2 separate regions of the Homo sapiens genome follow, and region 1 is linked to region 2. Evidence: fine-mapped expression QTL. Tissue or cell type: monocytes after R848. Region 2 holds a variant in brackets; the other region holds the start of a gene. All regions are shown on one strand. Distances are between the middles of the regions.

Region 1 (4,000 bases), 94 kb before region 2:
ATCAAGCTTCCCCACAACATCACGGGATAAGATGTAATTTAAGAATGGCATCATCTCCCACATCAGGTCCAATGCCATCTTAGTAGCCAATATATCTACACCGAGCAACGTGGAGGAATCAGAATCATGTCTTGAGATGTCTGGCTGCGTGACAATCCCTCATGATGCTGCAGCTGCTGCTGGTTCTAGGTGCTTATTTTGACATTAAAGCCCAGCAGCCCACTGAAGGTTTTACGGAACCACTCACTTGAAGGGAGTAAAAATGGATGCCCAAATAACTCTTTCGGAGTTCTTCAATGTTAACCGCTGACCTCCTTAATTTCTGATCAGTTACATCACCAGTTCCACTAAAAGTAAAACCTGGAAAGGCAGCCACCTCCTCCAAATGGCTTGTTCACAGACTATCTAGTAGAGAAGACGACTATTAGATTTCAAGGCCGAGGGTGTGGTTATCTTCCCACAGAGGGAATGAGGGGTAGGGGCTGATGAGGACGGGCAGCAAAACATGGGATGGATTATTAGCCCTGGAAGATGAAGTGGGCATTAGTGGGGCAGGAGGTGGTACAAAAAGGGGAGAAGTGAGTACCTACATGAAGAGAGGGTAAGAGAGGGTGAGGGAGGGGAGGGCCCGTGAATTAACGAGTCCGCGCGCGTCGGAGAGAGGCTGGCTTGGGATGTACCTACCCGTCGAAGCGGACGGTGCCAGTCTGCTGAGTCTGCACCCGGTAATGTTCTAAGAGCAAGCGTACCACCTTTGCGTGTCCATTGCGGGCTGCGATGATGAGGGGCGTGGAGCGCTGCCCTCCCTGCTGGCTGACATAGCCAAGCAGATAGCGGATGTCGCTTTCAGACCGGTTGAGAAGCAAGGCGGCCAGAGTCAGCACCTTGCCCTCGCTGGCCGCCTTGTATACATAGCCAGCCAGGCCCTCCATGGCCGCCGCCAACTCCAACACCCGTTTGGTCGCCACCGCTGCAGCTGCCGTGCGCCCCCGGAGGCCGCGTTCGCCAGCGCTTTAAACCTGGGCCCTCACAGCCCATTCAACAGGGCGCCGTCGCCGCCGCCGCGCCCAGGCAGCAGTGCGGCCCAGGGAAGGCGGAGACGCAGAGGAGGCCGAGTGCCGCGAAGGGCACGTCCGCGACCCAGCCCGCGCAGGGAGGAAGGCGGTCAGGGCCGCCCGCCAGGTCCCAGGCGCCGGCCCTGGACCGAGGGGATCTCCATGGCGGACGCCGCCCCGGGCCTCAGGCCGGACCCCTCCTTCCTGCGGGATGCGACAGGCGCGTGCCCGAGCTACGGGTCGCCGGCCGGGTCCCGAGAGGACCTCGCGCACCCCGGATGGCGAAAGATGGGCGCGTCTCTCCTGACCCGGCCCACCCGGCCTAAGGCCTAACACTGCCTCCTCCTGCGCTTTCCGCCCTTCGCCGTCCCTGACTGGAGGAAACCTGCAGGCTCTCGTCCGCCGAGCTCAGAAGTGCCAGGCGCTGCCAACGGCCCCGGAGATCCTCGCGTAGGGGCCCCCGGGGCGATGCGGAACGCTCCCGCAAGAGCGGCGCCGGAACTTGGGCGGGGAGGAAGACGAGCTTTCGCAGACAGGGCCGGGAGGAGAGGGCGGGAGCGGGAGGGACGCTAAGTGGGGTGTCTCCGCCTAAGCCGACCGGCGGGCACACGCGGGCCCGGTAGAGAAAGGTTCTGCTGCGCGTAGTTGGCCCATCCCGTTTGGGCCTGGATGTCCTCAATGTCCTTGACTCCTGGAACCTCCTCCTGGCCCCTAAACGGCCCTGAGGGTCTCCAGCCAGGGAGTGGGGGCGGAGTGAGGGCGCTAAGCTGATGGGCTAAGGAGACCACCCTATTTTACTATAGACGGTGCGGGTCCTGCTTCTGCCCCTGAGCCGGGGTTAGGGAAGGGGTTGCGCGTACTCGGAGGGTCCATTTCAGGAAAAGGGCGGCGTTTCTGAGTTCCCGAAATGTGGGAGGGCTTGAGAGCCACAACACCAGGCTCTGAGAAGGGACTGGAAGTACGGCCTGACTTTCCCGGAGAAAGGGGTTAAGTGTGAGAGAAAGATGGGAGCGAAGGGGAGCTGCGCTCGCGGTGGAAGGAGCGAGGTATCCTGGGAAGGAAAGCGAGTCCCGCGTTCAGACAGAGCAGGAATCTCATCCTGAGCCGGCAGAACCTCCGTTTTCTCACAGACATCACAAGATTGTTGTTAGGATTTGAAACGATCGTTTATCCAATGAATATTAGAGGTCGACTACGTGCCAGGCTCTGCTTAGCACTAGGGATTCAGTAATGGAACAAATAAGTCAACAAATGATAGACAAGATCAGTTGAACTGGTATCATTACCATTTGCTCTGAAGCAAATGAAATAGAATGATGGGGGCACTCATTTAGTTTGGGTGATCAGACAAGACCTCTATGACAAGTGACAAGAACAGACGGTATTCTAGGCAAAGGGGACAGCTAATATAAAAGTCCTGAGGAGGGAACAGTCTGGTGAGCTCGGAAACAGAAAGGTCAGTGTGGCTGCAGCAGAGTGGGCCACAGTAAGAATGATAGATGAAGTCAGAGGATGCAACACACGTTAGGGCCTAATAACCCATAGCAAAGGGTTTAAGTCTACTCTGTGATGGGGGCATTTGAAGGGTTTTAAAGAGGGAAGTGACAAGATGCTATTTGTGTTTTTTAAAAAGATCACTCTGGCTGCTGTATGGAGAATAAACTCTGGAAGGCAAGAGTAGATAGGGGGACAGGCCTTGGATTAGGATGGTAGGAGTGAATGGTAGGTGATGAAGCTTCTGGGACAGTCTCAAAAAACTCAATATGAAAGTGACTTCCTCCCTCTTCCTCCCTTCCCCAAAGGACAAAATTTACCATAGAGAAAGAACAAATGCATTTATGTGGCTCCAAGGGACTGGGCTCGGCTCAACAAGTTCACATACATTATTTTATTTGAACCCCACCATTCCAATTCTAGGAGGTAAAGGCCTCACTTCCATTGCAGCTATTGGTGGAGGTGTGGGTCACTTCTCAAATTCTCTCCATTCTACAGCTCAGCTTTACCCACTTATTGCAGATCCCTACAGAAACACGAGTTATTTTTCTCCTTACCATAAACAAAAACAGCATTGGCAATAAGGGCTGAAGGTAAGATTCTACTGGTAGCGTCTCTGAAATAGCTGATAGAGAAGTGGGGGAAGCTGGCTGGTTTATTTGGGGACTTCAGGGTCATGAAAAAACCCAGTGTTTGACAGGGACCCAGGCTTTTTGGTCTCGGATTCACACATTCAGATGTGTGATGACTTCCTTTTCTGGCTCCATACGGCAAGCATGCACCTCATCTACCATCTGTCTCCTCTCTGCCTTTCTATCTCTCTCTGTCTCTCCATATCTCTAACTCCGTCTCCCTACCACCCTCCCTCTCCTCTGCCAACACACTTTGATTACCTGGGCACAAGCTGACCTGGAGGAGTGCCTGGCTCTTTAGAAAAACCATCTCCTCATAGCCTTTTACCCTATTATGTTCCTGAATCATTCTACATTCTATTCCGAACCAACTTTCTGAAGAAGGTGATGTAAAAAAGTCCAGACACAGGCCCCTTCTTCCAGTTTTGTTTTCTAAGGGAGACCTGATTCATCCAGACTCATTGCTGAATAAGAGACTCCCTTCTTCCTCGTGCCCTCTCTACCTCAGTTTGGTGGTATAACTGGATGGGTACTACAAGGGGTGACTGCTCCAAGGGTCAAGCTAGAGAGGGGCTCAGAACTTGCATTGTGTGGCCTCCATCCCAAGATGGGAATACCTCTTTGCTCCAGCAGCCCAAAGTCAGGAGGTTTGGGCTGCTGTTTTCTTCTGTGTTTATCAAAGTTGCTTCGTATAGGCTTCTGGGCTCCCTTGGTTTCTTAATAGCTATTGGCTGACTGGAGACTATTTAGTTGCTTGTTTACCTGGGCTTAGAGGGTGACGTTTCTGTGGTCAGGTTGTGCAAATCTGGAGAGAGGATA
Region 2 (4,260 bases):
ATGTTACTCTCTCAACAGTACTTCTCCATTTTGCTGGCACAGCAATTCGGGAGGACATCCTGGAAGAAAAGCTGGGTCATCGATGACTTCTTATTGCTCCTGTAGTACACGGGCAGTGTGTGCTTGCTGACATGCTTGAAGGCTCTGGAGTTCTCACTGTGCCAGATCACAAAGGGTTTCAATTTGTAGCCTGCAATATGGCCCCAAGCAAGACTGTTATCTTGTCCTTAAAAGCCTTGAAATCTAGCATTGACTTGGCTTCTTTATGGATGAAAGTCCTTTCAGCCATTTATTTCCAGAATAGGGAGGTTTCATGCGTATTGAAAATTTGTCTGGCAAGTAATCTTCCTTCATAATCAGCTTATCTAGAGTTTCCAAAAATTCTTCAGTTGCCTTCACATCTGCATTTGCAGACTCTCCACTCACTTTGATATTACATAATGAATAATGATTCTTCAATCGTTTAAACCACCCGGAGCTAGCAGTACATTTAACACTGTAGTTGGGTCCAGTCTTTTCTTTAAGCATTGCAAACAAACTTTTTGCTTTGGCCATGATCATTATGGTGCTGAGAGGGATATGTTTCTGTGTCTGGTCTTCAATCCAGGTCACTAACAAGTTTCTCCATATCTGATACAGGCCCTTCTCAAATTTTTGTTAGTCTTGTTGCCTTGAACAAAGCAGATCCTTTAACAGCTTCTATCACTTTGTTCTTGTTCTTTAAGACTGTAGCTATGGTAGAATGGGACTGCCTGACTGGTGAGCAATAACTATCACTGATCTTCCACTTTCATCGTCCTTAATCACTTAATTTTTTTCCATGTCAGTCACTCGATGTGGCCTCTTACTGGCAACATTAGCTGTGGATTTTGTATGCTTAGGGGCCATGATGAACAAAACAAGACAAGATTTTCATCAAGCACAAGAGGAAATGATGCAATCAAGAGATGTGGCAAACTGGGATGTATGAGGCTGTCCTGGAATAACATGGCACACTGTTTTACAGCAAACTTAAAAAAAAAAAAAGTAGAGGTACACTCTAAAATAACAATAAAAAATATAGTAAATGCATAAACCAGTAACAGAGTTGTTTATTATCGTTATATTGTACATAATTATACGTGTGATACTTTTACATGACTGACAGCATAGGTTTGTTCACACCAGCAACACCACAAACATGTGAGTAATGCCTTGTGCTACAATGTTACCATGGCTATAATTGATGTAGGGATTTTTCAGCTCCATTATAATCTTATGGAATGCATATATGGCCTGTCATTGACCAAAATGTCATTATGTGGCGCATGACTGTATTTTTAATGTACAATTAAAATAATAGTAAATTTTTCATAACATACCTGATTGTCTCCTGATAAGAAAGGAAAGAAATCTAATCCTGTGGAAGAAAAAATTATTTCAGTTTAAAAAAAAAAGAAGGAAAAACTCTTCCAAATGCCCCAATACTTCAAAAACAAATACAAGTCTTATATGCTATGTCACTCAGAATTTTATTTAAACATGAAGAGTTGAGCTAAACGTTTTACGTCTCTCCTTTCTTTAGATTACTAAGGCTGAAAACTAAGCTTTGGCAATGATTTGTCTTCTCCGTGACCCCATTTGGGGGACTGGGGCCATTACTACTCTGTCAGATCTAACACTGATCCTTAAACGGGCATAGTACTTTTAACAAATGCTCTGGACTCCTCTTAAGGAAACTTTCAATCTGCTCTAAGTTACTCCTCACAAGCACTTCATGAGGTATGTAATTAGTTTTGCCCTCATTTTGCAGGTGAGAAAGTTTGAAGTTGAAAGAGTTAGGTTAAGTAAGTTGTAGTACTGATTTTTCTTTCTTAAATTTGCTCATTTGCTATCAGATTCAACTGACAGACTGCAGTGGCATGAGGGGAGAAGAGGTTTGAGTGCCTGCAAACTGGCTACTATTACATAAGAAGGAGTAGTTCTGCTACCTGGCTGCTGAGGATTCACTGCAAGGAGGCCCCTTCCAATTAACATTCTTTTCTAGATCACCCAGTGTGTAATGCGATGAAGAGCAAGTGAACAAGCATGAATTAAATGCTTCATTATGATATCTAAACTTGGGGAAAGGTAAAACACGCAGCTATAGATAAATATATTACAACACCACAGATACTCTGGGCATCTACTCACTGTCTACATTATAACCGATTACAACACGAAGGCTTACAAAATGCATAGCACTGTTGTTCTTGATAGTGACAGTGCGTTTCATACATGTAGAAAAAAAGGTATAGAAAGATATCTAACCGTTAAGAGCAGCTGTAACTGGCTGGCCGTAGTGGCTCACGCCTGTAATCCCAGCACTTTGGGAAGCGAAGGCAGGCGAATCACCTGAGGTCGGGAGTTTGAGACCAGCCTGACCAACATGGTGAAACCCCGTCTCTACTAAAAATACAAAATTAGCCAGGCGTGGTGGCACATGCCTGTCGCGCCATTGCACTCCAGCCTGAGCAATAAGAGCAAAACTCCGACACACACACACACACACACACACAC[G/ACACACACACACACACG]CAGCCTGAGCAATAAGAGCAAAACTCCGACACACACACACACACACACACACACACACACACACTAGCTGTAACTTCCCGGGAATGGGGTTGGGGGATAGGTAGAGGGAAACTTTCACTTTATGTTTCTGTGTTGAATTTTCTACAATGAGCATATATGGCTTTTTTAATAAAAAAAAGTTCTTAGATTATATGACTAATATTCAAATTATTATGCTACAAAGATATAAAAACAATTCTTTTTGATAATATAAATGATTATTATGAACTCAAAATATATAAATGAGTATACTGACATTTCAAACAGCTTTTAAAAAGAAGGATCAGATAAATGTATACACCTAGTATGTACCCACAAAATTAAAAAAAAAATTTTTAAGAAGGATCAAATTCATTAGAATAAAAACTAAAACTTTCAAATGTCTCAACTCACCATTATCTAAAACATAATACAACATAGTTACCCACAATGCCTGTTGCATTACAACTAAAGTCAGGGTACAATAAATAATGTTCACAGGGCTGGGCGTGGTGGCTCACGCCTGTAATCCTAGCACTTTGGGAGGCCGAGGCAGGAGGACCACGAGGTCAGGACCAGCCTGACCAAAATAGTGAAACCCTGTCTCTACTAAAAATATAAAACATTAGCCTGGTGTGGTAGTGGGCGCCTATAATCCCAGCTACTCGGTCGGGAAGCTGAGGCAGGAGAATTGTTTGAACCTGGGAGGCGGAGGTTGTAGTGAGCTGAGATCGTGCCACCGCACTCCAGCCCAGGCAACAGAGCAAGACTCCGTTCCCCACGGCAAAAAAAAATAATGTTCATAAATACCAAAATTCAAACCCACATACTAGCAGTCATTCAAAAACAATTTGCAGAGTACTCAGGAGCTCACAAAAACTAAAGATTATTGCACTAGTTTTACCACTGGGAGTAAAACACTGGCTACTGATGACAGTACAATCAACGAACTGGGTCAGTATTTATAACAACGGCATATTATTTCTCTCAGTTCCCTGGGTCCAAGGCCCTGTTGGCTCAGTCTTCCAGTTCTTCCTTAGATTCACCTAGAAGAGAATTATATAGATCAAAGGCATTCATAATGCTATGTGACAATGTAGAAGAACCAGTGACTCACCTTGTAAGTCGTAAGGCATGGGTGTCATGTGGAAAGGATGCCTATAGTCTTGGATGAGGGAGGTATTAATGTAGCTTGTGTCTACAGCAGGAAGGCTTGGGGTGCGGGATACTGGAGATGCTTGATGTGGAAGACTTAAAATGCTGGAAGAAGGAAAGATTGGCATAGTTTTCATTAGCCAGTTAAACTCTCAAGGTTAACAAAAAAAGGGGTTGTATCTCACAATGAACCCTCGGTTTAGTGCTGGAAATAAGAACAAAACCAAGCAAAGCAATGTATAATTTAGATTATACACAATTATGAGAAAATAATTTGTATACATAATAGCATTTAACAGAGGCCACAGGAAGAAGTGGACAGATGCAATGGTATCCAACATTCACAAACCTCACATTGCCTTTGGAATATCATCACCTATGCTTTCAAAATGCAAGAGAAAGGTACAGTTGAGCCACTTTAACGGGATATGAGTGAAAGATACCTACATCAAATGAAAGTCGGAAACCCTTTTAAAACAACACCAGAGTATTGGCTATTAAGAAGCATACGTATGCCCTAGCAAAGAAAATACATATAATAAGACAGA

Evidence for each region. PIP is the estimated chance that this variant, and not a neighbour inherited with it, causes the effect.
Region 1: FEM1B starts here. The variant in region 2 is fine-mapped to the expression of FEM1B in monocytes after R848 (Quach 2016, PIP 0.95).

What each region holds. Positions count from the first base shown.
Region 1 is chr15:68,275,350-68,279,349 of GRCh38, reverse strand. FEM1B (fem-1 homolog B) reads right to left here and starts at 1,605. Exons shown (of 2, transcript NM_015322.5): 1 at 685-1,605. The coding sequence starts at 932. RefSeq lists enhancers at 766-965, 708-1,609 and a silencer at 996-1,325.
Region 2 is chr15:68,180,769-68,185,028 of GRCh38, reverse strand. PIAS1 (protein inhibitor of activated STAT 1) reads right to left here. Exons shown (of 14, transcript NM_016166.3): 12 at 3,675-3,817; 13 at 1,362-1,399. LOC105370871 (a long non-coding RNA gene) reads left to right here. Exons shown (of 2, transcript XR_932396.3): 1 at 1-1,761; 2 at 1,878-2,731. Among named protein-coding and RNA genes, the nearest start is that of CALML4, 22 kb to the left of the region's middle. The variant G/ACACACACACACACACG (reference allele first, on the strand shown) is at 2,539.